Regions from separate parts of the Homo sapiens genome. Here regions 1, 3 and 4 are each linked to region 2. The links come from fine-mapping of genetic effects on gene expression. A gene starts in region 2. Each other region holds a variant in brackets. All regions are shown on one strand. Distances are from middle to middle.

Evidence for each region. PIP is the estimated chance that this variant, and not a neighbour inherited with it, causes the effect.
Region 1: its variant is fine-mapped to the expression of EME2 in lymphoblastoid cells (GTEx, PIP 0.97).
Region 3: its variant is fine-mapped to the expression of EME2 in whole blood (INTERVAL, PIP above 0.99).
Region 4: its variant is fine-mapped to the expression of EME2 in whole blood (TOPMed, PIP above 0.99).

The regions. Positions count from the first base shown.
Region 1 is chr16:2,394,674-2,402,673 of GRCh38, forward strand. It overlaps the pseudogene ABCA17P. Among named protein-coding and RNA genes, the nearest start is that of CCNF, 31 kb to the right of the region's middle. RefSeq lists an enhancer at 5,684-6,431. The variant G/A (reference allele first, on the strand shown) is at 3,267.
Region 2 is chr16:1,768,175-1,776,174 of GRCh38, forward strand. It overlaps EME2 (essential meiotic structure-specific endonuclease subunit 2), which reads left to right and starts at 4,636. Exons shown (of 8, transcript NM_001257370.2): 1 at 4,636-5,300; 2 at 5,531-5,667; 3 at 6,086-6,178; 4 at 6,867-6,958; 5 at 7,141-7,234; 6 at 7,395-7,510; 7 at 7,623-7,812; 8 at 7,894-8,000. The coding sequence starts at 5,054. It overlaps MAPK8IP3 (mitogen-activated protein kinase 8 interacting protein 3), which reads left to right. Exons shown (of 32, transcript NM_001318852.2): 30 at 25-204; 31 at 303-452; 32 at 529-2,177. The coding sequence ends at 650. NME3 (NME/NM23 nucleoside diphosphate kinase 3) reads right to left here and starts at 3,369. Exons shown (of 5, transcript NM_002513.3): 1 at 3,315-3,369; 2 at 3,106-3,236; 3 at 2,896-2,997; 4 at 2,707-2,819; 5 at 2,146-2,592. The coding sequence starts at 3,360. The coding sequence ends at 2,475. MRPS34 (mitochondrial ribosomal protein S34) reads right to left here and starts at 4,960. Exons shown (of 3, transcript NM_023936.2): 1 at 4,625-4,960; 2 at 4,430-4,472; 3 at 3,721-4,339. The coding sequence starts at 4,945. The coding sequence ends at 4,047. RefSeq lists enhancers at 445-494, 4,005-4,094, 4,885-5,024, 5,882-6,670, 7,506-8,000 and silencers at 2,605-2,804, 3,115-3,704, 4,575-4,714, 5,075-5,174, 5,205-5,514 and 2 more.
Region 3 is chr16:1,731,831-1,739,830 of GRCh38, forward strand. All of the region lies in intron 4 of MAPK8IP3 (mitogen-activated protein kinase 8 interacting protein 3), which reads left to right. It overlaps MIR3177 (microRNA 3177), which reads left to right and starts at 3,155; the gene lies at 3,155-3,236. RefSeq lists enhancers at 3,134-3,635, 3,636-4,135, 7,448-8,000. The variant CCAGG/C (reference allele first, on the strand shown) is at 3,087.
Region 4 is chr16:1,925,988-1,933,987 of GRCh38, forward strand. No RefSeq gene overlaps it. Among named protein-coding and RNA genes, the nearest start is that of HS3ST6, 12 kb to the left of the region's middle. The variant C/G (reference allele first, on the strand shown) is at 3,867.

The DNA of each region.
Region 1 (8,000 bases), 630 kb after region 2:
AAGACCATATGATTCCATTTACATGAAGAGCAAGAAGAAGTAAAACTAATGTAAAATTTAGGACATTTGGTTGTCTGAGGGCAAGAGAGGGACTCATCAAAGGGGACATGGGGGCATTTTCTAGGGTGATGGAATGTTCGGTGTCTTGATTAGGGTGATATTACACATTTGTCAAAACTCATCAAACTATACATGTAAGAACAAGATAGTTTACCTAAATTCTGCCTCAATATTTTAAAATGGTTACTGTGATCTTGTTGGCAAGACAGTAGCAATAGCATGAGTACAATTTCAGTAACTGGAAACTGAATGAAGAGCAAGATAGTGAACATACTGAGGGTGTGACTGTTGATCATATTCAGTAAATAGTATTTGCTGAATATTTAACACAGGGGGGCTACTTTGCTAAGCATCTTTACATTTTTCTCAATCCTTACAACTTTTTGAATTAGGTAATATCTGTCTTACAGGTGAGGGAAGATTTGGAAAGGTGAAACAACTAGCTCAAAGTCACAAAACTTGTAAGTGACAGAGTCTAGACTCAAACCCAGCCATGATTAGTTTATAACCATTGTCTGCTCACAGGGACACACACAAAGCCCCTGCAGACCTCGTATAGGCATCTGGCATATGTGTCTGGTTTCTTAAAAGTTGGACACTAGGTTGTGAGAGAATAGAAGCCTTCATTATAGAACATTATGATGGATTTCTTAATATCACAAACAAAAGCCATGATTGTTTTAATTTAAAAAAAATGGAAAGCATGTTTGAGAAAGGTTTTAACATTAGCAGGCTAAAAGAATTATCTCCTTTCCTCGCTTAAATAACAATTAAAACCACTCTCTCTGGAGACGAAAGGCCTGAGCTTGAGTCCTGGCTCTTCTGCTTCTGGCTGTGTGGCCTCAGGGAAGTTTCTTAACTTCTCAGCACTGTCCTCAAAGAGCTGTTGAAAGCATCCACAGACCTTAATACAGAGTTAATAGGTAAAAAACTGTGAAGGGCCCCTGACATTCACATAGTTATAAAGCTAATGACAAAGCTGGTGTTTGAAAAAATACGTTCCTGACTCCAAAGTCCATGCTTTTTCCCCAGTAGAGAGCCAAGGGCAGTGATGAAAGGGATTCACCTTACACCTTTCAGGACTAAAACCATTTCTTTCCTTCCAGGTTTGAATCTCTATTTACTGACTTGGAACTGAGGCAGGTAGAGCTGGGCATCTCCAGCTTTGGGGCCTCTGTCATGACCATGGAGGATGTCTTCATAAGGTAAGCACGTATAAAACTGTAAGACTCCAAGGTTCTTAGGGTTGGAAGGGATCTTAAAGGTCATCTGTCTAAACATTGCCTGATGCTTGAATCTTTTCTGTAGCAACCTCACTGAATGGCCTTCCAGCCTCTGACTAGTACTTCCAATAACAGGGATACCTGAATCTTGGCTCACTGCAGCCTCTGCATCCCAGGTTCAAGCAATTCTCCTGCCTCAGCCTCCTGAGTAGCTGGGGCTACAGGCGCCTGCCACCACACCCAACTGATTTTTGTACTTTTAGTACAGATGAGGTTTCACTATGTTGGCCAGGCTGGTCTCAAACTCCCGACCTCAAGTGATCTGCCTGCCTCAACCTTCCAAAGTGCCTGAGATTACAGGTAACTTTTGTATTTTTAGTAGAGATGGGGATTCACCATGTTGGCCAGGCTGGTCTCGATCTCCTGACCTCAAGTGATCCACCCACCTTGGCCTCCCAAAGTGCTGGGATTACAGGTATGAGCCATTGCACCTGGTCTTTAAACAAATTTTATTGATCCATAATGTGCATATGTCTGGGATACATGTGATATTTTGATACATGCATATTCTACTTGAGACTTGATTGATGTCTGGCTATGGAAATCTTCCATGAGTTTAGAATCCCCAGCTATTATTATCTGTTCATACAGGGCCTCTGCTCAAATATCTCCTCTCGTTTTGGAACTCCAATTAGACATATTAGATCTTATCACTCTACTATGTGAATTTTAACTTTTTAAATATTTTCCAACTCTTTGTCTCTCTGAGCTGCACTCTACATAATATCTTCTGATCTACATCCAGGTCGTTGATTCTCTCTGCAGATGTTTCTGATCTTCAGCTAAACACTTCCATTGAGAGTATTTTCTTTTTTGTGGAGATGAGGTCTCATTATGTTGACCAGGCTGGTCTCAAACTCCTAGGCTCAAGCTATCCACCCCCTTGGCCTCCCAAAGTGCTGGGATTACAGGCATGAGCCACTACACACAGCCAGTTTTTTAAATACTTACATTTTTGTTGAAGTATAACATATATACCAAAAGGTATGCAATTATTAAACCTGTAGCTCAGTTTTCATTTTTTGAGTTTTTGAAATTTTTGTATATTCTAGATATAAATCTTTGTCAGATACGTGTTTTATCTACATTTTCTTCCAGTATGTGGCTTGCTTCTTAATATTCTTAGTGGTAGCTTTTTATTTTATTTTTTTGAGACAGGGTCACACTCTGTCACCTCGGCTGGAGTACACTGGCATGATCTTGGCTCACTGCAACTTCCGCCGTCTAGGTTCAAGGGATTCCCCTGCCTCAGCCTCCCGAGTAGCTGGGACTACAGGTGCACGCCACCACGCCCAGCTAACTTTTTGTATTTTGGTAGAGACGGGGTTTCACCATGTTGGCCAGGTTGGTCTCAAACTCCTGACCTCAGGTGATCTGCCCACCTTGGCCTCCCAAAGTGCTGGGATTACAGGCGTAAGCCACCATGCCTGGCCCCTAAATTTTTTTTATAGTTACTGTGTTCTGTATCCTTTCTAAAAAATATTTCCCTACCCTTAGGTCACAAAGTCATGCTTCTACTTTTTGTTCTAGGAATTTTATCATTTTAGCTTTTACATTAGGTCTGTGACCCATTTTCTATTAATTTTTGTGTATGGTTGTGTGTGTGTGTGTGTGTGTGTGTGTGTGTGTGTGTGTATGCAAGACAAGGTCTCACTCTGTCACCCAGGCTGGAGTGCAGTGGTGTGATCACAGCTCACTGCAGTCTCCAGCTCCTGAGCTTAAGTGATCCCACCTCAGCCTCCCAAGTAGGTGGGACTACAGATGCACACCACGCCTGGCTAGGTTTTTTATATTTTGTAGAGACGAGGTCTTGCAATATTGCCCAGGCTGGTCTCTAACTCCTGGGCTCAAGCAATCTTCCCACCTCGGCTTCCCAAAGTGTTGGGATTATAGGCGTGAGCCACAGTGCCCAGCCTTGTGTAC[G/A]GTTTGATAAGAGGTGAAATGGAAAAACATACACTGTTTTTCTTCTGCTCTCACATCACAGCAATCAACACAGAAGACTTCTATGACAAAATGTGTGGGAATTTCCCGCCAACAGCAAGCAAGCAATCAGTTCTGCAGCAGACACCAGCTAAGTGTCCTCCAATTCAATTCTGACACTATTTGGAGATAGCATCAGATCCCACAGGTCGAGGGCTAGGTTCCACAAGACTTCTCACTTCCAGTGTCAATCACAAGCCCCAGGTTGTTTTACCTGTCCTTTATTTATTTATTTATTTATTTATTTATTTATTTTAAGAGACAAGGCCTCACTATGTTGCTCAGGCTGGTCTCTATCTCTTGGGCTGGGCTCAAGTGATCCTCCTGCCTCAGCTTCCTGAGTAGCTGGGATTACAGGGTTAGCTACCACACACTTACCTGTACTTCTGACCGACCAGCTGTAAACTAGCGATCCTATTACCCCCTCCTTAGGTTCAATTAATTTGCTAAAGTGGCTCACAGAACGCAGGGAAACACATTTCCCAGTTTATTATAAGGATAGTACAAAGGATACAGAAGAAGAGACGCATAGGGTGAGGTATGTGGGAAAGGGTATGGAGCCTCTGTGGCCTCCCCGGGTGTGACACCCTCCAGGAACCTCCAATTGTTCACCTATCTGGAAGCTCCTCTTGGGCCTTCTATGGAGACTTCATTGGATAGGCATGACTAAAGCATGGACAGCTGTGTAGAAATGAGACTGGACAAAAAGAGTATGATGTAATACTAACAGTCTGAGTGGGGAAACGCAGCAAGGCCTGTCTGTTCAGATCCTTCCTGGCCTCTCTGTGCAGCGTTCTTTCCCCCAGGGTATGGTATAGGACACCTTCTAAAACGGGGAGGTCTTATGACCTACAATCAGGCAAGATGGGTCAGAGAATTTCTTTATGGCCAGCTCCAAGACAGAAAGATGCAGGAAGATTATATTTTTAGTTTCTGTGGACTGCCTTGGGGAGAAATAACAGCTACACGAGTTACGGGCCAGGAACTATGAACGAAAACATATTTTATTGACCCGTGTGATATAATGATACCACTGCCTCGTGATAATGATATATCACAGGGGTTGAGGCTCATTTTCTTTCACATAAGTATCCAGATGGGACAGACTATTTGTTGAAAAGACTTTTTTTTCCACATTGAGTTGTTCAGATGCCTTAACCAAAAATCAGTTGACTGTATGTCTCTACATTCCCTCTTCTGTTTCATTGATCTGTTTGTCTGTCCTGTGCTAGTACTGCATTGTTGAGATTGCTGTAGCTTTGCAGTATATCTTAAAGTCAGGTAGTATATTGTTCTCCCAGCTTTATTCTGTTTTTTCTTTTTTTTTTTTTTTTATTGATCATTCTTGGGTGTTTCTCGCAGAGGGGGATTTGGCAGGGTCACAGGACAATAGTGGAGGGAAGGTCAGCAGATAAACAAGTGAACAAAGGTCTCTGGTTTTCCTAGGCAGAGGACCCTGCGGCCTTCCGCAGTGTTTGTGTCCCTGGGTACTTGAGATTAGGGAGTGGTGATGACTCTTAAGGAGCATGCTGCCTTCAAGCATCTGTTTAACAAAGCACATCTTGCACCGCCCTTAATCCATTCAACCCTGAGTGGACACAGCACATGTTTCAGCGAGCACAGGGTTGGGGGTAAGGTCACAGATCAACAGGATCCCAAGGCAGAAGAATTTTTCTTAGTACAGAACAAAATGAAAAGTCTCCCATGTCTACCTCTTTCTACACAGACACGGCAACCATCCGATTTCTCAATCTTTTCCCCACCTTTCCCGCCTTTCTATTCCACAAAACCGCCATTGTCATCATGGCCCGTTCTCAATGAGCTCTTGGGTACATCTCCCAGACGGGGTGGTGGCCGGGCAGAGGGGCTCCTCACTTCCCAGTAGGGCCAGCCGGGCAGAGGCGCCCCTCACCTCCCGGACGGGGCGGCTGGCCGGGCGGGGGGCTGACCCCCCCACCTCCCTCCCGGACGAGGTGGCTGCCGGGCGGAGACACTCCTCACTTCCCAGACGGGGTGGCTGCTGGGCGGAGGGGCTCCTCACTTCTCGGACGGGGCGGTTGCCAGGCAGAGGGTCTCCTCACTTCTCAGACGGGGCGGCCGGGCAGAGATGCTCCTCACATCCCGGACGAGGTGGCAGGGCAGAGGTGCTCCCCACATCTCAGACAATGGGCGGCCGGGCAGAGACGCTCCTCACTTCCTAGATGGGATGGCGGCCGGGAAGAGGCGCTCCTCACTTCCTAGATGGGATGGCGGCTGGGCAGAGACGCTCCTCACTTTCCAGACTGGGCAGCCAGGCAGAGGGGCTCCTCACATCCCAGATGATGGGCGGCCAGGCGGAGACGCTCCTCACTTCCCAGACGGGGTGGCGGCCGGGCAGAGGCTGCAATCTCGGCACTTTGGGGGGCCAAGGCAGGCGGCTGGGAGGTGGAGATTGTAGCGAGCTGAGATCACGCCACTGCACTCCAGCCTGGGCACCACTGAGCACTGAGTGAACCAGACTCCGTCTGCAATCCCGGCACCTCGGGAGGCCGAGGCTGGCGGATCACTCCCGGTTAGGAGCTGGAGACCAGCCCGGCCAACACAGCGAAACCCCGTCTCCACCAAAAAAATACGAAAACCCGTCAGGCATGGCGGCGCGCGCCTGCAATCGCAGGCACTCGGCAGGCTGAGGCAGGAGAACCAGGCAGGGAGGTTGCAGTGAGCCGAGATGGCAGCAGTACAGTCCAGCTTCGGCTCGGCATGAGAGGGAGACCCTGGAAAGAGAGGGAGAGGGAGACCGTGGGGAGGGGGAGGAGGAGGGAGAGGGAGAGGGAGAGGGAGAGCGAGAGCGAGAGCGAGAGCTCAACCCCTACATTTTACAGATGGGAAAACTGAGACCCTATTCTGTTTGTTGAAGATTGTTTTGGGTATTGTAGATCCTTGACATTATCATGTAAATTTTAAAATAAACTTATCAATTTCTTAAAAAAAAAAAAAAAAGAACCTGATGGAAATGCTGTTTCATTTGTAACGATGTACCACCCTAATGCAAGATGTTAAAAACAGGGAAATGGGGCTGGGCACTGTGGCTCACACCTGTAATAACAGCATTTTGGGAGGCCGAGGCGGGCAGATCACCTGAGGTCAAGAAATTGAGACCATCCTGGCCAACATGGTGAAACCCTGTCTCTATTAAAAATACAAAAATTAGCTGGGCGTGGTGTCTCACGCGTGTAATCCTAGCTACTCAGGAGGCTGAGGCAGGAGAATCGCTTGAACCCAGGAGGCGGAGGTTGCAGTGAGCCAAAATTGCACCATTGCACTCCAGCCTGGCAACAGAGAGAGACTCCGTCTAAAAAAGAAAAAAAAAAAATAGGGAAATGAGGGTGGGAGATGTGTATATAGGAAACTCTCTGAACTTTCTGCTCATGGAGGTAGATGCCCCAGCCCCAGTCAAGCCTTCAAGGGACTGCAGCCCTGGCTAATAGCTTAACCGCAGCCTCATGAGAAATCTTAATATAGAAACACCTAGCTAAGCCACTCTCAAATTCTAGACCCCCAGAAACTGTGTGAGATAATAACTTTTACTGTTGTTTTAAGCTACTAACTTTTGGGATAATCTGTGTCACAGCATTAGATAACAAATACACCATGTTTTACAGAACCATACTGAAGGAAAAAAGTCAATTTCCTGGGTTATTTTGGTGTGACAAATTCTTAGTAGAATGATGGCCCAAAGCCTTTGACTAGAAATAGTTTCCTGGCACATTGACACTTTGCTGCCAACCAAACACATCTTTTTGCCTAGAGCAGGGGTCAGCAGACTTTTTCTTAAAGGGCCACACAGCCGGGCGCGGTAGCTCACGCCCGTAATCCTAGCACTTTGGGAGACCAAGGTGGGCAGATCACGAGGTCAAGAGATCGAGACCATCCTGGCCAACATGGTGAAACCCCGTCTCTACTAAAAATACAAAAATTAGCTGGGTGTGGTGGCCTGCACCTGTAGTCCCAGCTACTCCGGAGGCTGAGGCAGGAGAATTGCTTGAACCTGGAAGGCAGAAGTTGCAGTAGGCTGAGATAGGGCCACTGCATTCCAGCTTGGCAACAGAGTGAGACTATGTCTAAAAAAAAGGACCACATAGTAACTATTTTATGCTATGTAGGCTTAGCAGCATAATCAAGGATATTATGTAAGTAATTATATAACTAGTTCCAGGCCAGATACAGTGGCCCATGCCTGCAGTCCCAGCTACTTGGGAGGCTGAGGCAAGAGGATCCCTTGAGCCCAGGAATTTGAGGCGGCCATGAGCCATGATCACCACTGAAATCCAGCCTGGGCAACAAAGTAAGACCCAGGCTCTATTATTTAAGTGTGTGTGTGTGCATACACACACATACTATATACTATTTATATATATATATATGATTATATATACTTACATATATACACTGTAAATGTATATATAATATGTATATATACACGTGTGTGTATATATACATATGTAGTATGTGTATATATATAGTATGTGCGTGTATATATACATATGTAGTATGTGTATATATATAGTATGTGCGTGTATATATACACATATTAGTATATATATTTTACATATATATTACATTTTATTATATAGTACATATATACTTTACATTATACACATATATAGTGTGTGTGTATAGTATATATACACTTTACAT
Region 2 (8,000 bases):
CGCCTCTGGGTTCTCTCCCTGCAGCCAATAAGACATCCCCCACCTCTGGGGAGGGCGCCCGTCCCGGGGGCATCATCCACGTGTATGGCGATGACAGCAGTGACAGGGCGGCCAGCAGCTTCATCCCCTACTGCTCCATGGCCCAGGCCCAGCTATGCTTCCATGGGCACCGCGATGCCGTGAAGTTCTTTGTCTCGGTGCCAGGTGAGGCTGGGCCCCTCCTGCCATCCACATCCCCTGCATGCCAGTGGCCGCCGCCTCCCCCAGGAGGCCGCTGTCCTGAATCGCTTCTGCCATCCCAGGGAACGTGCTGGCCACCCTGAATGGGAGTGTGCTGGACAGCCCAGCCGAGGGCCCTGGGCCAGCTGCCCCTGCCTCGGAGGTCGAGGGCCAGAAGCTGCGGAACGTGCTGGTGCTGAGCGGCGGGGAGGGCTACATCGACTTCCGCATTGGTGAGCGGGGCCCAGGGACAGGGCTGAGGTTGGGCGCGGGGGGAGCCTGGCCGTCACTCTGCTGCTTTGCCCGCAGGAGACGGAGAGGACGACGAGACGGAGGAGGGCGCAGGGGACATGAGCCAGGTGAAGCCCGTGCTGTCCAAGGCAGAGCGCAGTCACATCATCGTGTGGCAGGTGTCCTACACCCCCGAGTGAAGCTGCTGCCCTGCCTGGCCCGACCTGTACATAGGACCCCCGACCACCTGACCCCCGCCCGGCCCGCGGGGTAGCCAGCCAGGCGCCGCCGCCCCTCTTCTAACCTCTCAACCTGCAGCTTTCACCTGAGTCTGGCCCCTCCAGCGGGCAGGGAGTGCGGGGATGCGGATCAGCTGGGAGGAGGAGGGGAGGGGAACTTCCACCCGAGGGGAAGATGCTCTCGGGACAGTTTCCCGGGCAGCTCCTGGCCAGCTTCCAGCCCAGAGTCCTCAAGTCCAGGGCACCTTGGGCCCAGCGCAGGCAGAATCCGAGGTGGTCCTGGCTCTACCCTGGGCCTCCTACTCCCCAGCACCCCTGGAGGAGGCAGGGGCTCCCCGCCGCCGAGGCTGCCTGCCCTGGGCCCACCTCTGCATGCTGCTCATGGGGCCACCCTGCCTCCTGGGCCCTCACTCTGCCTAGGGGAGCTGGGCCAGGCACTAGCCTTTGCCCAGGGAGGTGGGCCTCAGGCTGCCCAGGTGCCTGCACCCCAGCCGGCCTTCTCTGGGGCCTCCCCGTCGTCAAGCCTCTATCCTGTCTGTCCCCACCCCAGCTGTCCCCTGCCCAGGGAGCTGGCATAAAAGCACGAGGCCCGGCTCCCTGGGGCAGCTGCTTGAGAACAGAGACTGCTACCCCATCCTGCCCATGCAGGCAGGCTCTTGCCAGCCCCGTTCTGACCCGTGTCCCCCCAGGCTCTGCCTGGGCAGAAGACTCACCTTGGAGGAGTGGGCCCTGGAGTCCTGTCCCTCCCAGAAGCCCCCAGGGTGGGATTTCTCAGGCTGCCAGGGCAGGCCCAGGCCTCAGGAAGAAGGGGAGGCCCCTGGCCTCTCCGGGATCAGTCCTAGGACACAGGCTCAGCCTCAGGTTGATGGGGGATGATGTGCTCCCGGGGCCTGCCTCCTGCACGGGGCTCCACGGAGCCCAGCTCCCAGACACGCTACTAAGTGCCTAGGGTTGCCCGCTGTGGCCTGCTTCCAGGGAGCAACAGAGAGGCCACCAAGCAGAGGCCCGTGGGGCTGAGGATGGAGCCGCCCCCAGCCGACTCCAAGCCCGCAGAGGGCAGACGCCACCCTGGACTGCTCTCCCTGCCCAGCTGGGCCTCTCTGGCCTATTCCTACCTTCCAGGCCCACTGCACTCCTGTCTGGGAGGCCCTTATGAGGGCAGCCCAGCCCCCGCACCCACCCCCAACCAGAGAAGCACAGATCTTGGGGAGCTGCCCCACAAGCCCCGCTGGCCACCGAGGGCTGCAGCCGCTGCGCTGCCGGCTTCTCCCCACCACCCTGCCACCTCCACTGTGATGTATGTCCGCTCCCTCGTCTGTTCCCCCAGGATCTCGAAGTGACTCCGGGCTGAGCAGTGGGGCGGCTGGGGGAGGGGTGACGATTCTCCTCAGGCTTTGGCCCTGCAAGCAAACCCACATATCTGCTCTGTATGTAATAAATGTCTTAACGTCGTAGCTGCCTGTTCCTGGGCCCAAATCGAAACGAAAACGAGGACTTTATTATAAAAAAACGTTGGACCACGTTGGGCTGGGCACCAGGACAGTGTCCTGGCACGTTTCCAGGCGAGCCGCGCAGGCTCCTGGAGCAGCTCCTCGGGCAGGAAACCCTGTACGCCAGGGATTGGAGAGGCCTGCGCCACCCTCCATGCAACGTCCAGACAGGTGGATGTTCAGCAGCCCGTCCAAAGGGATGCTCCAAGCGCTGTGGGGTGGGGCCAGAAGCCCGCCCACCTGGGCCCTGGAGGAGGCTGGAGTGTGAGAGCCTCTGTGACGCGCATCTGCCGGGCTACTCATACAGCCAGTGCCCAGCGCTGTCCTCCCAGCAGAGGAGCTCGTCTGCGCGGAACCAGAGAGCGATCTCGCGGCGGGCACTCTCCACCGAGTCGCTGCCGTGAATCAGGTTCCTGCGCGGAAGAGGCGCGTGTGAGCGTGGGAAAGAGACCTCCGGCACGGGTACCACGCAGGCTGAACAGGGGGAGGCCGGACGGGGCTGGGACCGTCCCCGGGGCGGGCCTTACTTGCCAACCTCGATGCAGAAATCCCCGCGGATGGTGCCGGGCGGGGCGTCGGCCGGGTTCGTGGCTCCGATGAGCGCCCGCGAGGTGCGCACCACGTCCAGCCCCTGCCATACCTGTGCGGAGGAACGGGCGCGGTATCACGCGGGGGTGGGGGTCCCGGAGCCGCCCGCCCGCTTCCCGGATACTCACCATGGCCACCACCGGCCCGGAGGCCATATACTTGACAAGGCGGCCGTAGAACGGGCGTTCACGCAGCTCGGCGTAGTGCTCACGCAGCAGCTCCTCGGAGGCCTGCGGAAGGGTCAGGCCGCCTGCGCCCGCACCCGGCACCTAGGCGTCCCCAGGTCCCCGCTCCCCTTCCCCCCACACCGCGCCCCCGCTCGCTCACCGCGCCCCCACCTGCACCAGCTTCAGCGCCACCAACTTGAAGCCCTTCCTCTCGAAGCGCCGCACAATCTCGCCCACCAGCCGCCGCTGCACGCCGTCCGGCTTCACGGCCAGGAAGGTGCGTTCGTGTGCGCCGGTGCAGGCTGCGGGGCAGGCGGGGACGGGCCGTCAGGCCGGCCCAGCACCGGCCACCCGCCCCCGGCCCGCGCCGCGCGGCTCACCCGCGGGGAAGAGGTTAGCGAAGATGGTCAGCACCAGGCAGATCATGATGGCGGTGCGGGAGCGGGATCCGCGGGGCGGGGCGGTGGCGCCCGGGGCGGGGCCTGCGCTTAAAGAGGCCTGGTCGGGGCGCTGCGGCCTCCGCGGGGAGGCTGCTTCACTTGCACCCCGGAACCCGGCAGCCGTGGGGGGCCGGAGGGCAGCTGCGGAGGCCAAGTCTCCTCCAGCAGCTCGGACACTAACTGTATCCCCCACAACCCGCCCAGGTGGTTCCACCCACGCGGCGCCCTGCTCCGCACCGCCCGAACCCCGCCCCCCCCGCGCCCCCCCGGCCAGGGCCACGACCACAGCGTCAGCCCTTCTCTCCCCGGTCCTAAAGACAGAGCGCAAAGACACCACGACCCTGGGTACTTCTTTTCTCTTTATTCCCTTTCATAGCTTCTGCCGGGATCCAGGCAGAGAGAGCACTAATGGGGGAAAGGGAGCGAGCGCTTCCCGCTTTCCCCAGCGTGGGCCCTCGGAGTTGGGTGTGGGGGCAGCAGGGCCAGAGGAAAGGCACAGGTGGCGATTTGCCCCAGCCCTCCCCCCTAAGATGCAGACCCTCAGAACACGTCGCGGAAGGTGAGCTCCCTGCTCCGAGAGGCAGACTCGGGTGTAACGCAAAGACGGTTTCTTTCATCAATAAGGTCCCCACTGCCTCACAGCCCCTAAGGCCACCCGCTGGTTCTGGCATTCTAGACGGGGGTGCCCTTGGCCCTTCCTTTGTCTTCCTGTTTTGCAGGGTAATCCCAGGGTTCCATGCGTATCCTCTGCACATTCAGCATGGGCTCCTCGGTGCTTGTGTCTCCATTTTTCTGTCGTTCTGCGATAATCATGGCCCGGAGGAGAGGCGGGTACGGCACGGAGGCCAGGCTGTCTTCCGGCGCCGGCGTGAACGCGGTGAAGGCCTCCTCCTCGTGCTTGGGCACCAGCCGCCAGTCATGGTACATGACGTGTTCGATCTCCCGCGCCTCGCTCTCAGTCTTCCCTGATGAAGAAAAAGAGGCGTCTGCACACACTTGCTGTGCCGTCGGCGGTCGGCATCGAACTGCCGGGCACCCGCTCTCCCGAGCCTTACCTTTGAAGGTCAGGATGCCCCAGGCCTTCCCGTGGTCCAAGTTCTGCAAAGCCAGAAGGAAGCGGGGTCAGCTCGCAAAGCTCTCGGCCCCCGAGGTCAGGAGGTGGGAGCCTCAGCCACGCAAACCTGCAGGGAGGAGGGGAGGCGGGGAGACCAGGCGGCTGCAGGGGCGGGGTGCGGACGGGGTGCACGCACCTGCGCCGTGTAGTCGGGCCGCACCCGCGTGAGGCGCCAGTAGCACGGCTCGTCGTGCTGCCACAGCCAGGACTTGCGCGTGACCAGGCGGCCCAGGCCGAAGAGCGGGAGGCGGCCGAGCAGCTGCAAGAGGCGGCTCTCGCGGCGCACGTCGGCCCAGGCCCGGACCGGCAGCCGGCGTCCAGAGAACGGCCGCGTCAAGGTCTCGTAGTCCACCGCGTAGAGCTGGGAGTCGCGCGGCCTGTTCAGTTGCTCCCGCAGGGCGCGCACGCGGCGGGCCAGCTCCGCGATCAGCCGCGGACGCACCTTCTTCCGCGCCATGGCGGGTCCGCGTCCTCAGCGGTCCGGCCGGAAGTCACCGGAAGAGGCCGGTGTCCCAGGCTAAAGTGTTCGGTCGCGGCCGGAAGCGAGGAAGAGGTCGGTCCGGCCATGGCGCGGGTTGGACCCGGGAGGGCGGGGGTCTCTTGCCAGGGCCGGGGCCGGGGACGGGGCGGGAGCGGTCAGCGGCGACCTCCAACCTGGGAGATCTCAGACTCCGACGCTGAGGACTCCGCCGGCTCGGAGGCCGCCGCGAGAGCCCGGGACCCAGCGGGTGAGCGCAGGGCGGCTGCCGAGGCGTTGCGGCTGCTGCGGCCGGAGCAGGTCCTGAAGCGCCTCGCGGTGTGCGTGGACACAGGTGCGGCGGAGGGCACGGGCGATACTCGGGGTAGGAAAGGCCTTTCTCCGCCAGGCGGCGCCCTCTGTCCGACTGGGCGGGGCGCGCGTGCCGAGGGGCCTGGGGCCGGGCCCGCCTCCCAGTCGGGGGTTTGTGCCGAATGGAGACTCCCCGGTCCGGCCACCCGCCCAGGTAGGGCGCTCGCGAGGGTGGAAGGAAGCAGTGACCGCGCTCCTCTCCCCCGGTCCCAGCCATCCTGGAAGACGCCGGTGCCGACGTCCTGATGGAGGCCCTGGAGGCCCTGGGCTGCGAGTGCCGCATCGAGCCCCAGCGCCCGGCCCGCAGCCTGCGGTGGACCCGAGCGAGTCCCGACCCCTGCCCCCGCAGCGTGAGTGGTCGCGGGTTCCCGAGGGCCAGCCGCGAGTTGGCTGTTTTGCTTCCATGATTTCAGCCCTGGAGCTGTCCCTGAGGCAGCTGCCCTGGGCCGTGCGCGTCTCGCGGATGGGTAAAGCAAGGATGGAGAACGGGAAGTGGAGGTGCCCAAGCCGTTCTGCTGGTATAGAGCCGAGCTGGCTGGAGAAGGTTCCGTCTCGATTCAGGCTGTGGTCTGGATTCCTGCCAGCCACAGAGACCTGGCCTGAGCTTGGCCTTGGCAGGAAAGGGAACACTGGGCTTCTGTAGAGCAGGCCTGTCAGGGCCTGGGCTTGGCTGGGGCCACGAACCGCTTTGCTGCTGGACTGCCCAGGCAGGGCCCCTGGGGCACCCGGGGTTGAGACAGGCAGCAGCGCGTCCCCATGTCCCCACAGCTGCCTCCTGAAGTGTGGGCTGCAGGTGAACAGGAATTGCTGCTGCTGCTGGAGCCCGAGGAGTTTCTGCAGGGCGTCGCCACACTGACCCAGGTGCTCGGGTGGTGGCAGTAGTCCCTCTCTAATCAGGAGGGGTGGGTTCCCAGCCGGGAGGCGCCTGCTCCGCCGGTCCCTGCCCCTGTAGACGGGGCTGGAGGGGGCATGGGGCAGGCCAGGACTCCTCTCTGATCCAAAGCCGTAGAGGTTTCTAGGGTGAGATGGAGAAAGCTCCTGGGCACCTGCGGAGGCTACAGCTGCTCCTAGAGGATCCTGAGAAGTGTCAGGAGGCCGGGGTCCGGGCAGTAGGCTGCAGGCTTCGTCCTCTGACAGCAGACAGCCTGGCCCCTGCCTGCGGGGAGCAGTGCTCAGGTGCTGTGGTGCCAGGTAGCGTGGGGTTAGGCTAGACCCCCTGCCAGGTCCCTGTGTCCCAGGATCAGTGTCTCTCAAGCTGCTGCTTTGTGCTAGGTCAAAGCTAGGCTGGAGTACAGAGGTGGACCAGGATGAGGGGCTCAATGGAACTGACATGTGCCCGAGCAGCCACTCCAGGGTCTCCTTAGCCTCTTTGGCCTCGTGGGAGGCACAGAGCTGGTTTTCTCAGAAGGGGTAACGGAACAGAGGCTCCTCTCGGCACCACTGGCTCTTTTTCAGGCTTGCTGTTCTGCAAACCAGCTGTGGCCTGGTGGCCCATGGCCATAGGCCGCAGCCTCCTGTGAACAACTGTGCCACACGTTCTCATCTTCAGATCTCTGGCCCAACCCACTGGGTGCCCTGGATCTCCCCCGAGACCACCGCCCGGCCCCACCTGGCTGTCATCGGGCTGGATGCCTACCTGTGGTACCGCTCACTCTCATGCCCACAGCAGGGCTGGCTGGGACGGGGGTTCAGGGGAGGTGGGCACACTTCTGGGGTTGCTGTGGCACAGCTGATCCCACTTCTCCAGGTGGGCTCTGGCAGAGGCCAAGCTCGGGCAGGGCAGGCCCCATGGGGAGCGGGGAGGAATGGTCACCTCTGCTCAGGTCTCGCCAGCACGTTTCCCGGGGGACACAGCAGCCAGAGAGCCCGAAGGTGGCCGGTGCCGAGGTGGCCGTCAGCTGGCCGGAGGTGGAAGAGGTGAGGGCCTGTCTGAGCTGGGTGAGTCAGGTGGCCTGGGTCCCAGTGATTGGGCTGCTGGCTGGGTTTGGTTCCCAGCGTGGTACATGGGGCAGCTATCAGCTGTGTGTCCCGGGTAGCCTTCCTCTGGCTCGTGCCCATCAGCTTGCCTCCTCCCCAGGCCCTGGTACTCCTGCAGCTCTGGGCAAACCTGGACGTGCTACTGGTGGCCTCTTGGCAGGAGCTGAGTCGGCACGTGTGCGCCGTTACCAAGGCTCTCGCCCAGTATCCCCTCAAGTGCGTGATGCCAAGGCTGAAGGGGGGCAGGATCACCTCAAGGTAGTGGTGCCTCCCCGGCCTTTTGGGAGCTGCTCACATGAGGTTCTAAAAGGCTTCTCTCTGTCCCCAGGCAGTACCGGGAATCCCAGGCCTTCTCCTTCTGCACAGCAGGGCGCTGGGCAGCCGGCGAGCCAGTGGCAAGAGACGGCGCAGGGCTGCAGGCGGCCTGGCGGAGGCAGATCAGGCAGTTCAGTCGGGTCAGCCCAGCCGTGGCTGATGCAGTTGTCACAGCCTTCCCCTCCCCCCGCCTTCTGCAGCAGGTGGGCCCCTGCCTCCTCCAAGCCCTCCAGGTGCAGAAGCCCCGTCCCCAGGCGCCCTCTCATGCCTTTGCCTGCTCCTAGGCGCTGGAGGCCTGCAGCACGGAGCGGGAGCGCATGGGCCTCCTGGCCGACCTTCCTGTGCCGCCCAGTGAAGGCGGGCGTCCCCGCAGGGTGGGGCCTGACCTCTC
Region 3 (8,000 bases), 36 kb before region 2:
TAGTGTTTGAGGGACTTTCTAGAACATACTGCCTCAAATACTGTGTGGATGAGCCCAGGAGCCTTGGCCAGCCCTGCACTGAGTCTTATTCCTTCCACAGGGTGGGGGTACCGGTGGGTTTCCAGGGCTCGGTGCTGGTTTTCCTCAGAGAGTCGGGGGAGCCTGCCTAGAATGGGTTCCTCTCCGTTTTCTGTGCCCTTTGAATCAGGAGAAAGCCGGGCTGCAGGCCCCAGGGAGCAGAGCATCAGAGATCTTGCCAGGGTATTGCAGCTCCAGGGGACCGGCCATGGGAGACCAGAGACGCGACCTGGGCTGGGGAGGTTGGCGCTCTCGTTCTGAGTCTCCAGCAGCGGGGAGGAAGGGCCTGAAGTCAGAAGCTGCCGTCCTACAGAGCTGGGGCAGCTGGAAGGGGGGAAGCCTGTTTCTGCCCCCAAGCCTCCCACAGCCAGGGCTGCGATGGCAAAAGCCTCCCTCACACCCCATCAAGGCCTGGCCAGCTGCGAAAGCTGCATCGTGCCTGCCTGTTCTGGGGGTTACACCTGCAAACGAGAAGGGTCAGAACGTCCAGCTCTGGGCTTCATGGGTCACGTTCTGGATGATACAGAAGAAGCTGTCAGACTCTGCTTCCGAGTCTCTGGACGTGAGAGCAAATGCACGGTGTGCGCAAAGGCCCAGCTGGCCAGGGGCGTGCCGTGGAGCCTGCAGCAGCAGGTCCTCAGGCAGTCTCGCTGCTCTCAGCTGGAGCAGGGACCTGCAGTTCTCAGGGACTTGCCCTGAGAACGGGCGGCGCCGGCCATCTGCCCACCCAGAGCACCATGAGAACTACGCCAGGGCGTGTGGATGCCAGCTTGCCCCGAGAACAGGTGGTGCCAGCCATCCGCCCACCTGGAGCACCATGAGAACTACGCCAGGGCGTGTGGATGCCAGCTTGCCCCGAGAACGGGTGGTGCCAGCCATCCGCCCACCTGGAGCACCATGAGAACTACGCCAGGGCGTGTGGATGCCAGCTTGCCCCAAGAATGGGCAGCGCCAGCCATCCGCCCACCTGGAGCACCATGAGAACTACACCGGGGCGTGTGGATGCCAGCTTGGCAAGCTGTGAAAGCCTTGCAGGTGTTTCCATCAGATCCCACAGTGGGAGATTCTCATTCGCAGCTCCCGTCTCGTGGCATGCACGCTGGGACATCCTCACCTCTGGCTCTCGGCAGTTGGAAGAGGATTCCAAGCTAACTGGAATTAAAATCGAACCTGGACCCGGGATCTTTGTGTTGTTTTTCAGGGGAGCTGGGGGCAGAGGCAGGCAGTTTGGCCATCCCCTGGGAGCTGCAGCATTCCAGAACCTTCAGCTGCCTCCTTGCCAGCGCAGCCTCAGACAGGAGTGCCTCTGAGGCTGTGTCGGAGGGCGCCTGGGCAGGAGGAGCCCAGCAACAGTGTGCCCAGCTCATCCCAGATCCCAGAGGTGTGACGTGTGAACTCAGGACGCCGGCCGAGAGCCCAGGTTCCGAGTTGCAGTGATCCCCACCCCAGGCCCACAGACAACACCCGAGAGGTCCTGAGAGCCCCAGGGCCATGTGAGCTCAGCCAAGAGCAGAGGCTGCCCCAGCTCCAGAGCCGCCTGATGCTGCCGTCGTCATGGGCCAGGCCAGGCCTACCTGGAAGAGGCGCGTGGCTGCGGGGCAAGGAGTACTTCGTCCTGCATGTTTCTCTCATGGTGTGGGGCAGAAGGTGGCCCAGGAACCTGCTGTCGAGGTGTCCCCGCGGGACCCAGGGACCTGAGCTGAGTCTGGGCTGGGCGCCGCCCCCGTCCCTTGGCTCGTCCTGGCGCCGAGAGTTCAGTGGGAAGCCCCATGGTGGTGCACCTCGTCCTTGTCAGGGCCCCACTGCTGGGGTCCCCTCTGCAGCTCTGCCACGGCTCCTGAAGGCTATGTCAGGGCTGCTGCACTCCCCTCAGGGAACCAGACGGTGCCCTCTGGAAGAAGCCCCTCGATCATTTTGTAAGGGATGGATCTGGGGTGCTCTCTTGTCAGCGCTGCCACAACCAGGTCCTTCTGCCTGACCTGGCCCCAGCCATTCACTTCTTCTGGGCACACAGGACCTTTGGCACCGGCCGTGGGAGCAACGCCAGCAGCAGTGGCTGTGTGGTAGGGGCCTTCCCCAGCCACGGACCCCAGGAAGCCTCCATTTGTGAAACAGGACCCCTGCACCTCTGTGGGAGAGGGAGGGGTCTCATCCAGGTTTACACCAAAGCCTTGGTTGCCATGACTGGATCCAGCCAGAAGGCACCCTGCAGTGGGGTCTGCGCAGCTACATTACTCTGGCCCCTGGGCCTCCTTGCCAGATCTCCACAGCACGTGAGAAGACGTTGGCCCTGCGGGAAGAAGGCGCTGGGGCTGGCGGCCCTGTCTCCCTGAGCATGCCGAGGCCCTGACGGGAGCATGCTCCATGGGGGCGACAGAGGGGCAGGGCTATGGCTGGGCTACCCCTGCCTCCCTCCCTGGCCGGCGGTGGTACTGAGCCGCATCACCAGCGCACGGAATCGGTCACGCCTGCTGTTGCGGTGGTGGCATTAAGAGCCACCTCCGGGCTCGTGTGTCCCCTGCCTCCCCAGGCCGAGACCCTGGCCAGGAAGGAGAGGGTGGGGCTCACGTGCTGTCTGCCACCTGCCTGCAGGCGTGGATGGCAGCCACAGCCTTGTGCCTCTGAAGGCATGAGCCAGCTAAAGGAGGAAGGCACGGCCCCCCTCCCCTGTCCCGAGTGCTTGCCTTTGTGGGGTCAGGGGTGCTGGGACAGGCCTTGGTGATGTATGCTGTTGCTGGGCAGTTGAGCTGGAAGGAGCCCGTCCCTGCTGGACACCTGCTCTCTCTTCTCTGGTGTGGATTCTGTCCTGCCACAACCTTTGGTCCCTTGGGGGACACATATTTGAGTCAGTCCCATCTGCTCAGCCAAAACCCCTTGATTCACCATGAGGGCGCCGTCCATCCTCAGCGCTGGGCGCCCTCCTTCCTGACCCAGATGGACATTTTCCTTCACGCCTGGCGTGGCTTAGTGAGTGTGTGTCTGGAATGCAGTCGGTGTGAGTGCAAACG[CCAGG/C]CAGTGTTCTCGGGCCACTGCTGCAGAGTGTGTGTGTGTCTGTGTGGCCACATGTGTGCCGTCACCACGTGCCATGTGTACACACGTGCCAGGCGCTGTCTTGAGACATTCGCGCAGTGCACGGCACTGGGGACACGTGGCACTGGCTGAACTGCCACACAGCCCCGTTCCAGGGCCTCTTGTCAAAGCCAAGAGGGCTCGTGTGTCGCATGTCTGTCCCTCTTGGGTGCCTGTGTGTGGCTTCTGTCTCATCGGGGTACGGCCGCCCTGCGTGTCTCACATCACCACATCCTGGCCGTCCGTGTGAGCGTCCATGTGACCATCGGTGTGAGCATCCGTGTGAGCATGTGACCGTCTGTGAGTGTGCGACGGTCCATGTGACTGTCCGTGTTTCCGTGTGTGTCCATGTGAGTGAGCGTCCATGTGAGCGTGTGAGCGTCCATGTGAGCATCCACGTGAGCGTTCGTGTGGAACGTGTGACCGTCCATGTGAGCGTCCGTGTGACCATCCGTGTGAGCATCCGTGTGACCGTCCGTGTGAGCGTCCGTGTGAGAGTGTGACCGTCCATGTGAGCGTCCGTGTGACCATCCGTGTGAGCAGCCGTGTGACCGTCCGTGTGAGCGTCCGTGTGAGAGTGTGACCGTCCATGTGAGAGTCCGTGTGACCATCCGTGTGAGCATCCGTGTGACCATCCGTGTGAGCATCCGTGTGACTGTCCATGTGAGTGTGACCATCCATGTGAGCATCCGTGTGACCGTCCGTGTGAGCGTCTGTGTGCCTGTCCGTGTGAGCATCCGTGTGACCGTCCATGTGAGAGTGTGACCGTCCATGTGAGCATCCGTGTGACCGTCCATGTGAGAGTGTGACCGTCCATGTGAGCATCTGTGTGACCATCCGTGTGACCGTCCGTGTGAGAGCGTGACCGCCCGTGTGAGCATCCATATGACCGTCCATGGAGCATCTGTGTGACTGTCCATGTGAGCATCCGTGTGACCATCCGTGAGCATCCGTGTGACCGTCTGTGTGAGTGTGACCGCCCATGTGAGCATCCGTGTGACCGTCCATGTGAGCATCCGTGTGACCGTCCATGTGAGAGTGTGACCGTCCATGTGAGCATCCGTGTGAGCGTGTGACCGTCCGTGTGTGTGACCATCCGTGTGAGAGTGTGACCGTCCATGTGAGCATCCGTGTGACCGTCCGTGTGTGTGACCATCCATGTGAGCATCTGTGTGACCGTCCGTGTGAGCGTCCGTGTGAGCGTGTGACCGTCCGTGTGAGCATGTGTGACCATCCGTGTGAGCGTCCGTGTAAGCATCCGTGTGAGCGTGTGACTGTCCGTGTGAGCGTGTGACCATCCATGTGAGCATCCGTGTGACCGTGAGCGTCCGTGTGAGCGTGTGACCGTGTGAGCATCCGTGTGAGCGTGTGACCGTCCGTGTGTGACCGTCCGTGTGAGCATCCGTGTGAGCGTGACCGTCCGTGTGTGACCGTCCGTGTAAGCATCCGTGTGAGCGTGTGACTGTCCGTGTGAGCGTGTGACCATCCATGTGAGCATCCGTGTGACCGTGAGCGTCCGTGTGAGCGTGTGACCGTCCGTGTGTGACCGTCCGTGTGAGCATCCGTGTGAGCGTGTGACTGTCCGTGTGTGACCGTCCGTGTGAGCGTGTGACCATCCATGTGAGCATCCGTGTGACCGTCCGTGTGAGCGTCCGTGTGAGCGTGTGACCGTCCGTGTGAGCGTGTGACCGTCCGTGTGAGCATCCGTGTGACCGACCGTGTGAGCGTCCGTGTGAGCGTGTGACCGTCCGTGTGAGCGTGTGACCATCCATGTGAGCATCCGTGTGACCGTCTGTGTGACCATCCGTGTGTGACCGTCCGTGTGAGCGTGTGACCGTCCGTGTGAGCGTCCGTGTGAGCGTGTGACCGTCCGTGTGTGACCGTCCATGTGAGCATCCGTGAGCGTGTGACCGTCCGTGTGTGACCGTCTGTGTGAGTGACCATCCATGTGAGCATCCGTGACCGTCCATGTGAGCGTGTGACCGTCCGTGTGACCGTCCGTGTGAGCATCCGTGTGAGCGTGTGACCGTCCGTGTGAGAGTGTGACCATCCATGTGAGCATCCGTGTGACCGTCCGTGTGAGCGTCCGTGTGAGCGTGTGACCGTCCGTGTGAGTGTGACCATCCATGTGAGCATCTGTGTGACCGTCCGTGTGAGCATGTGACCATCCGTGACCGTCCGTGTGAGCATCCGTGTGAGCGTGTGACCGTCCGTGTGAGCGTGTGACCATCCGTGAGAGTGTGACCATCCATGTAAGCATCCGTGTGACCGTGTGAGCGTCCGTGTGAGCGTGTGAGCGTCCGTGTGAGTGTGACCATCCATGTGAGCATCTGTGTGACCGTCCGTGTGAGCATCCGTGTGAGCGTGACCGTCCGTGAGTGTGTGACCGTCCGTGTGAGAGTGTGACCATCCATGTGAGCATCTGTGTGACCGTCCGTGTGAGCGTCCGTGTGAGTGTGTGAGCGTCCGTGTGAGTGTGACCACCCATGTGAGCATCTGTGTGACCGTCCGTGTGAGCGTCCGTGTGAGCGTGTGACCGTCCGTGTGAGTGTGTGACCATTCGTGTGAGAGTGTGACCATCCATGTGAGCATCTGTGTGACCGTCCGTGAGCATCCGTGTGAGCGTGTGACCGTCCGTGTGTGTGACCATCCATGTGAGCATCCGTGTGACTGTCCGTGTGAGCGTCCGTGTGAGCGTGTGACCGTCCGTGTGTGACCATCCATGTGAGCATCTGTGTGACCGTCCGTGTGAGCATCCGTGTGAGCGTGACCATCCGTGTGTGTGACCATCCGTGTGAGTGACCATCCATGTGAGCATCCATGTGACCGTCCGTGTGAGCGTCCGTGTGAGCGTGACTGTCCGTGTGTGTGACCATCCATGTGAGCATCTGTGTGACCGTCCGTGTGAGCATCCGTGTGAGCGTGTGACCGTCCGTGTGTGTGACCATCCATGTGAGCATCCGTGTGACTGTCCGTGTGAGCGTCCGTGTGAGCGTGTGACCGTCCGTGTGACCATCCATGTGAGCATCTGTGTGACCGTCCGTGTGAGCATCCGTGTGAGCGTGTGACCGTCCGTGTGAGTGTGTGACCATCCGTGTGAGAGTGTGACCATCCATGTGAGCATCCATGTGACCGTCCGTGTGAGCGTGACTGTCCGTGTGTGTGACCATCCATGTGAGCATCTGTGTGACCGTCCGTGTGAGCGTCCGTGAGCGTGTGACCGTCCGTGTGTGTGACCATCCGTGTGAGAGTGTGACCATCCATTTGAGCATCCGTGTGAGCGTGTGACCGTCCGTGTGAGTGTGACCATCCATGTGAGCATCTGTGTGACCGTCCGTGTGAGCATCCGTGAGCGTGTGACCGTCCGTGTGTGTGACCATCCGTGTGAGTGTGACCATCCATGTGAGCATCCGTGTGACCGTGTGAGCGTCCGTGTGAGCGTGTGACCGTGTGAGAGAGTGACCATCCATGTGAGCATGTGTGACCGTCCGTGTGAGCATCCGTGTGAGCGTGTGACCGTCCGTGTGTGTGACCATCCATGTGAGCATCTGTGTGACTGTCCGTGTGAGCATCCGTGTGAGCGTGTGAGCATCCGTGTGAGTGTGACCATCCATGTGAGCATCTGTGTGACCGTCCGTGTGAGCATCGGTGTGAGCGTGTGAGCGTCCGTGTGAGTGTGACCATCCATGTGAGCATGTGTGACCGTCCGTGTAGCATCCATGTGAGCGTGTGAGCATCCGTGTGAGTGTGACCACCCATGTGAGCATCTGTGACCGTCCGTGTGAGCGTCCGTGTGAGCGTGTGAGCGTCCGTGTGAGTGTGACCACCCATGTGAGCATCTGTGTGACCGTCCGTGTGAGCGTCCGTGTGAGCGTGTGAGCGTCCGTGTGAGTGTGACCATCCATGTGAGCATCTGTGTGACCATCCGTGTAGCATCCATGTGTGTGAGCGTCCGTGTGAGAGTGTGACCACCCATGTGAGCATCTGTGTGACCGTCCGTGTGAGCATGTGAGCATCCGTGTGTGTGACCATCCATGTGAGCATCTGTGTGAGCGTCCGTGTGAGCGTCCGTGTGAGCGTGTGAGCGTCCGTGTGAGTGTGACCATCCATGTGAGCATCTGTGTGACCGTCTGTGTGAGCATCCGTGTGAGCGTGTGACCGTCCGTGTGTGTGACCATCCGTGTGAGTGTGACCATCCATGTGAGCATCCGTGTGACCGTCCGTGTGAGCGTCCGTGTGAGCGTGTGACCGTCCGTGAGAGTGTGACCATCCATGTGAGCATCTGTGTGACCGTCCGTGTGAGCATCCATGTGAGCCTGTGACCGTCCGTGTGAGTGTGTGACCATCCGTGTGAGAGTGTGACCATCCATGTGAGCATCCGTGTGAGCATCCGTGTGACCGTCCGTGTGAGCATCCGTGTGACCGTCCATGTGAGCATCCCTGTGACCGTCCGTGTGAGCCTCCGTGTGACCGTCCGTGTGAGCTTCCGTGTGACCGTCCGTGTGAGCATGTGTGACCGTTCGTGTGAGTGTGTGACCGTCCGTGTGAGCTTCCGTGTGACCATCCGTGTGAGCATCTGTGTGACCGTTCGTGTGTGTGTGACCGTCCGTGTGTGACCGTCCGTGTGAGCTTCCGTGTGACCGTCCGTGTGAGCTTCCGTGTGACCGTCCGTGTGAGCATCTGTGTGACCGTTCGTGTGAGTGACCGTCCGTGTGAGCTTCCGTGTGACCGTCCGTGTGAGCATCTGTGTGACCGTGTGTGTGTGACCGTCCGTGTGTGACCGTCCATGTGAGCGTGTCACCGTCCATGTGAGCATCCGTGTGACCATCCGTGTGAGCGTGTGAGCATCCGTG
Region 4 (8,000 bases), 160 kb after region 2:
ATCTCGGCTCACTGCAACCTCCGCCTTCCAGGTTCAAGTGAATCTCCTGCCTCAGCCTCCCGAGTAGCTGGGATTACAGGCATGTGCCACCATGTCCAGCTAATTTTTTGTATTTTTAGTAGAGATGGGGTTTCACCATGTTGGCCAGGATGGTCTCGATCTCATGACCTCAGGTGATCCGTCTGCCTCGGCCTCCCAAAGTGCTGGGATTACAGGCACGAGCCACCGTGCGCGCCTGCCTGTAAGCCCCTTTTGAAGAGTTAGTCCCCCCTGGCCAGCAGACAGGATCCCCAGCAAGGGCACCTCCATTTGCCCTACTTCCGGGGGCAGCACCTCACCCCCGCAGTGGACCAGACAGGCATGTGGCCTGTCTTACTCGGTTCAACGCTCAGGAGGACTCAGAACCTGCAGTCAGGCCGAGAGCTCTAAATTCCTCTTCCCAACCCCCACCCCTGCCTCGCCCCTCTTAGGCTTCACAGCCTTCAAAGTCAACCCCTCCCCCTCCCCCCACCCCTCTGGCCGAGAGCCAGGACTCCATCCCTCATCTCCCAGGCTGGTCACTGCTGTCCTCTCTCTGACTCCAGTTGCCCTCCCTCGCCTTAGACCTGGATACACACCAGGGGCTCCCCGGCTTGGAGTTCTGGGGCCCAGCAAAGAATCATACTCCGAGAGAGACTTCGAGACCAAAAAGGCCATGGAGTTGAGGTGGAAGGGGAAGCCCAGGGCCAGCAGGCCTAGTCCATGGCTGGAAGCAGACCCCAGGGGTCCTGGCACCCAGCCCACCTGGTTCTGGCCACCCTCTCCTCCCCTCTCCTGCATTGCAGCCACCAAACCCTTCGAAGCCAAGAGTAGCTTATAAATGTCCTGGAGATGAAACTCGGTAAGACAGGAAGTCAGGGGCTGAACCATGAATAACCTCCAAGGTTTTACAAGGAGACAGGGAGTGGAGGGCCGTGAGGGGTTGGAAGTGGAGAAAGCTTATCCACAGGTAACCCTGAGCCCCTCCCCAGCCGCCTCCTGGCCCTCTGTCACTGAAGCCCCACCAACCTTCTTCCCAGGGCTTCTTACCCCAAGCTCTGTTAACCACAGCCTTAGTGCCCAGGCCCTGGAGAGGGTGATAGGTGGCTTGAGGACCCTGCATTCCCCAGACCGCCAACACATCCATGTAGATGTGGGGTACACATCTGGCACCCCTCCCAAGATTGTGCAACCCTGAAGGGGAGTACGGAGCAGGTGGTGTGAGTGGGTGAACATTTCTTCATCTGCTGCTGCCGTACGCAGCACCCCGAGGGCTCAGCATTTAAGAAACAGAATGAGGGCCAGACATGGTGGCTCACGCCTGTAATCCCAGCACTTTGGGAGACCGAACTACTGCGCCTGGCCCGAATCAACTAGGTTCTAAACCAGGTTATCACAGTACTGAAGGTGAGGAATGACTGAGCCTTGGGCTGGGGAGGTGGCATTGGTGATAGAGAAAAGGAGACACTTAAAATATATTTGGGGCTGAGTGTGGAGGCTCATGCCTGTAATCCCAGTACTTTGGGAGGCTGAGGCAGGCGGATCACCTAAGGTCAGGAGTTCAAGACCAGCCTGGTCAACATGGCGAACCCCATCTCTGATAAAAATACAAAAAAAAAAAAATTAGCTGGATGTAGTGGTGCATGCCTGTAGTCCCAGCTACTCGAGATGCTGAGGCAGAAGAATCACTTGAACCCGGGGGAGGCACAGGTTGCAGTGAGCCGAGATTGTGCCACTGTACTCCAGCCTGGGCAAAAGAGCAAGACTCCATCTCAAAAAAAAAAAAAAAAAAAAAAGACTGGGCATGGTGGCTCACGCCTGTAATCCCAGCACTTTGGGAGGCCAAGGCAGGCAGATCACGAGGTCAAGAGACCAAGACCATCCTGGCGAACATGGTGAAACCCCCTCTCTACTAAAAATACAAAAATTAGCCGGCGTGATGGCGCGCGCCTGTAATCCCAGCTACTCAGGAGGCTGAGGCAGGAGAATCGCTTGAATCTGGGAGGCGGAGGTTGCAGTGAGCCGAGATTGTGCCACTGCACTCCAGCCTGGGCGACAGAGCAAGACTCCATCTCAAAAAAAAAAAGAGAGAGAGAGAATGAGATGAAGGTGCTGTGGTTGATGGCTTTGAGGAGCTCCTTGACCTAGGATGGGTGAGGCCTGCAAGAGGGTAACAGGGGCCCAGTCTGCATGCACAGAGGAGGCCCACCCAGGCCCCTGCTGTGGGGGAAGGAGAGGACCACTGGGGCAGAGCCCCCAAGAAAAGCTTCTAGAAGGGTTGTGATGCGTGTGGAAGGACAAAACAGAAGAAGGAAAAACAAACTCTAGGAATGCAAGGATGTGTTTCTAGAGTGGGGTCTGGTTTGCCTGGAGGTGCAGGTGAAAGGGTTTGGGTTCAGGTGATGCGGGCAGTAACAACAACATAATTGACTGGGCTGAGGAGCTCACACCTATAATCCCAGCATTCTGGGAAGCCGAGGTGGGGGATCCCTTGAGCCCAGGAATTCAAGATCAGCCTGGGCAACAAAGCCAGAGCACGTCTCTACAAAAAGTTTTTTTAAAAAATTAGCCAGGCACAGTGGCTCATGCCTGTAATCCCAGCACTTTGGGAGACCAAAGCGGGAGTGTCACTTGAGCCCAGGCGTTCCAGACTAGCCTGGACAACATGGCAAAACCCTGTCTCTACTAAAAATACAAAAATTAGCGGGGCGTAGTAGCACACCTGTAGTCCTAGCTATTCGGGAGGTTGACCTGGGAGGATCGCTTGAGTCCAGGAATTCAAGGCTGCAGTGATCCATGGTCATGCCACTGCACTCCAGCCCAGGCAACAGAGAAACCCCCTTCTCAAGAAGAAACAACCAGGCCCGGCGCGGTAGCTCATGCCTGTAATCCCAGCACTTTGGGAGGCCCTGCTGGGCGGATCATGAGGTCAGGAGATCGAGACCATCCTGGCTAACACAGTGAAACCCCGGCTCTACCAAAAATACAAAAAAATTAGCCGGGCGCAGTGGTGGGCGCCTGTAGTCCCAGCTACTCGGGAGGCTGAGGCACGAGAATGGCGTGAACCCGGGAGGCGGAGCTTGCAGTGAGCCGAGATCGCGCCACTGCACTCCAGCCTGGGCGGCAGTGCCAGACTCCGTCTCAAAAAAAAAAAAAAAAAGAAACAACCCCAAACTGTAATTATGATAAACAACACCGATCTCATTTATGGAGTAGGAAATCAAGCTGGAGAGGTGGGGTCAGCCTAGGTCAGAGCAGGCAAGGACTGTGGGAACCTCTGAGGGAGGGACCTGGTCTGGTTATTATTTTGCAGAGAGGACTCTGGTTGGGGGAAGGCAGCCAGGAGCTGCCTGGGTTGTAGCGGGGAGAGGTGGGCGGAGGAAAGAGGCCTGGGATGTGGAACCCTAGGATCTAGCCCTGAGGGCGGGCCAGGTCCGGGCAGCCTGGGTCCCACGCAGCTGCCCTGAAGAAGGGGCTGGGGGCGTCCTGCCTCCACCCGCGCCCCCAACCACGCCTGCCGTTCCCACCGGCCGCGCCACCCCCGCCCCCGCCCCTGGCTCTGTCCTCCGGTGACCCTGGAAGGGGCACCCGTGGCTGCGACTGCACTCCCTGTAGCGGTCACTTCGTGAAGCCCGGCAAACCCCCTGCAGCTGCCCCTGGCACCCTCAGACGACCAGAGGCCTCGGCCTGGGTCCCCAGCACCGGCCCAAGGGCGGGCGTGGCCGAGGCGGTTTCTCTGCGCGGACGCTCGCTGCCTCCGCCGCAACCCCCGCGGCCACCCGGGGAACTGCAGCGCCGTCAGGCCCCCCGCCGCGCCTGCGCACGCAGACCACCCGGCCTGGCAGCAC[C/G]GAGCGAGCGTGCCCCCTGCTGGTCAGTCCTGCGCACGGTCCCGCGCCCGGGCCCGGGAGGCCGCCTCGAGGGCCGGGGCTTGCACGTGGCCTCGGCGCCTTCGCCGACCCTACCGGACGCCCCCTCCTCCCACCTGCCGACCCGTCCGCGGGTAGGAGCCTCCCGGGAGCTGCCCACGGCCCCCACCCCCACCAGGGGCCACAGCCCCACCAGGGCCAGGCTCTGCGCGGCACCTGCCACTGAGAGAGCGGAAAGCGGTGGTTGAGCAAGGGTCTGAAGTATGGTCTGTTCCCCCATACGGGCCGCAGACGCTTCCTGGTGGCTGCTCTGAGCCAGGCCTGGGCCCCGGCGAGGGATCACGGTGTCTCAGACAGAGTTCCTTTTTATTCCCCATCCCTCGCCCGAGGTGACGGCCCAGCCGTGCCCAGGCCTGCCCGCTGCCCCTGAACCCAACCCTTGAGGGGCAAGGCCGTGCCCTGGGGAGGAAGGGGCTGCCCCCTCAGAGTCTGCTGTTCCTCAAGGAAGACGCGGGGGCAGCCGCAAGGATGGGGTATCACCCAGCAGGAGCGGGAGGGTAAGGTGACTGATTCCACACCAGACGCTCCATTGCTGGAAACACCACCCCCTCCTCCGGTGACCTGGCATACAGACCTTGCCCACAGCCATCCCTCCCTGGACTCTCAATGTGAGGGGGCCTTGGGGTCCTGCGGTTCACCCGTCTCCCCACTCAAGCAGTCTGCTTGCCGGCACCCCCCCCACCTCCTGAGCCCACTTGCCCCCTCCCACCCCCACCTCCCTACCACATCTTTTTTTTTTTTTTTTTCCTGAGACGGAGATTTGCTCTTGTTGCCCAGGCTGGAGTACAATGGTGTCATCTCGGCTCACCACAACCTCCCTGAGCCTCAGCCTCCCAGGCTGAGCCTGAGCCTCCCAGGTTCAAGCGATTCTCCTGCCTCAGCCTCCCGAGTAGCTGGTGTAGGGAAAAGAAAGAGAGATCAGACTGTTACTGTGTCTATGTAGAAAGGGAAGACATAAGAGACTCCATTTGAAAAAGACCTGTACTTTAAATAATTGCTTTGCTGAGATGTTGTTAATTTGTAGCTTTGCCCCAGCCACTTTGACCCAACCACTTTGATCCAATCTGGAGCTCACAAAAACATGTGCTGTATGAAATCAAGGTTTAAGGGATGTAGGGCTGTGCAGGACGTGCCTTGTTAACAAAATGCTTACAAGCAGTATACTTGGTAAAAGTCATTGCCATTCTCCAGTCTCAATAAACCAGGGGCACAATGCACTGTGGAAAGCTGCAGGGACCTCTGCCCTTGAAAGCAGGGTATTGTCCAAGGTTTCTCCCCATGTGATAGTCTGAAATATGGCCTCGTGGTATGAGAAAGACCTGACCGTCCCCGAGCCCGACACCTGTAAAGGGTCTGTGCTGAGGTGGATTAGTCAAAGAGGAAAGCCTCTTGTAGTTGAGATAGAGGAAGGCCACTGTCTCCTGCCTGCCCCTGGGAACTGAATGTCTCGGTATAAAACCCAATTGTACATTTGTTCAGTTCTGAGATAGGAGAAAAACCACCCTATGGTGGGAGGTGAGACATGTTTGCAGTAATGCTGCCTTGTTATTCTTTACTCTGCTGAGATGTTTGGGTGGAGAGAAACATAAATCTGGCCTACGTGCACATCCAGGCATAGTACCTTCCCTTGAACTTAATTATGATATAGATTCTTTTGTTCACATGTTTTTTGCTGACCTTCTCCTTATGATCATCCTGCTCTCCTACTACATTCCTTTTTACTGAAATAACGAAAATAATAATCAATAAAAACTGAGGGAACTCAGAGACCGGTGCCAGTGCAGGTCCTTAGTATGCTGAGCGCCGGTCCCCTGGGCCCACTGTTGTTTCTCTATACTTTGTCTCTGTGTCTTATTTCTTTTCTCAGTCTCTCGTCCCACCCGACTGGAAATACCCACAGGTGTGGAGGGGCAGTCCTCCCCTTCAGCTGGGATTACAGGCATGGGTCACCACGCCCGGGTAATCCGGGTAATTCTGTATTTTAGTAGAGATGGGGTTTCTCCATGTTGGTCAGGCTGGTCTAGAACTCATAACCTCAGGTGATCCACCTGCCTCGGCCTCCCAAAGTGCTGGGATTACAGGCGTGAGCCACTGTGTCCGGCCCACCACCTTAACATGGATGTTTGGATGAGCCTGGGGCCCTGGGATGCAGGCAGGAGGCACTACTCCCCAGCCCCCACCAGGATCACCACCCCTGCACTGCTGTGGCTGAGATCCCCAGGCGCCAGCAGGCCTCCAGCCACCCAGCTACCGGCCTGAGCCTGGTAGACAGCCCTGGGGACAAAACCCTGCACACAGGGGCCCAGTTTGCAGGCGAAGGCCAGTCTGCTCTTGGGCCTGAGTCCACTCTCGGGGAAACACTGGCCCCAGGTGCAGAGCTGGGAGTGCTGGGAGAAGGCAGCACAGCCCAGGCCCCTGCCTGGCCCTGTGCCTGGGAAGCCTGCTGCCCATTCAGCAGCTCCCTCCCTGCCGCAGCAGAGCCGCCTTCCACAGGACCTGCCCACAGAGCCCTTCCCAGAGCCACTGCTCCTCCTGCAGGGAGAAGCAGAAAGGGACAGGTGTGGGCATAGAGGACCTGAACTGGCTGCCTAGAACAGTATTGGGAGCCCTGTGCACCCCCTGCCAGACCCGCCATCACCAAATGACTCAGCATGGCAGGACAAGGACCCTGATCAGAGGCCACTGGCAGCCGGCCACATGTGGCCTGGAGTGGCTCAGGTCCCTGGCGGCAGAGGACACAGGGCTTCTCCCAGCTGTGTGGCCTCAGACTAATCGCGTTCTCTGAGTCCCCCTTGTCTCCCCAGAAGAATGAGGCTAAGGAGAGTACCTGCTGCACTGGGGTCAGTCGCTGCAGCGGGCCTGCTCTCACCTGCTGGACTAGGGGGTGGGCAGGCCACAGGCTGGGCTAGGACAGTGCCCGAGAGCCAACGAAGACACTGGGTGGCCAGGGCAGCCCCAGAGCGGGCTCCACTTTAGCTGGTGGCCAGCGTCGGACACACTGGGGTCCAGGTGTAAAAAAATCAGGGCATGGGTGGGAGCTGGAATCAGGGGTTGAGAGACACCCCCCTGCTCTCCGCAGCTCCAGGGAGATTCTGGCAGCTAGCCTCAGTTCTGGCCCCCAGCAGGGCAGAGATGGAGACATTTGCTAGAACAGGAGGCTGCCACAGCACATGCTGGGGGAGGGGCAAGCAGCAGGAAGCCCCTTCTGGGTACGGTCCTCCCCGAAGGGCCCTTGGTGCTTTCATCAACACTGACTCTTCCCAGCACCCGCCCCACGCGCCCCTACCTCTAGACGGAGAGCCCACTGGCCAGCAGCGCCAGGAGTCAGGCCTCTGACCCACAGGGCAGTGCACACAGCACCCATTCAACTGTAGCATCCCCTGCCCGCCCCGGGTGGCTCTCCTGTGCCCTCATCCAACCGGAAGACAGGCTGGGTGCCACTAAGGGAGGCACAAAGAGAGGAAAGTCGAATGTCCCGCCCAAGATCAGGGTCACGCAAGCAGTCCGAGGCCAGCAAGGGAGACAGCGGCCTCTGCCACGGCACTGACTCCACGTCAGAGCAGGGACTGCTAGACCGGGCTGCGGAGGGGCTGGCAGGTGACAGAGTCAGCTCCGTGAGGGGTGAGCAGGCTGAAGGGGCTGGCAGCACGGCTGGCCTCTCCCCGGTCTCCACTGTGGCCTGTACTGCAGGCACTGCCCCTCCTGTGGGGGGACGCTGCCTTCCATTGAGGGTGCCTCTTCCAATTGTACACCCGGAACCGGGGATGACCACGGGACAGGTCCACTGGGATCGGACCCGAGCCAACGCTCCCTCAGTCACTGGGCCTTCATAAGCCCCTACTCTGACCCAGTGACGTCTGACTCCAGAGTTAGCATCGGTTCAGAGCCAGCATCCAGGAGTCCCCAGAAGGTCTCATGATCTCCTTTTCCCCAGTGCACTGCCATAGAGATCCCTTTGGAGAAGGCTGGGAAAAGACGAACAGGATAAATTTGGGGGGTCCTTCCTCAAGGCACCCTGGTCCCCTCCATACAGCGGTGTGGGTCTGAATGGAGGTT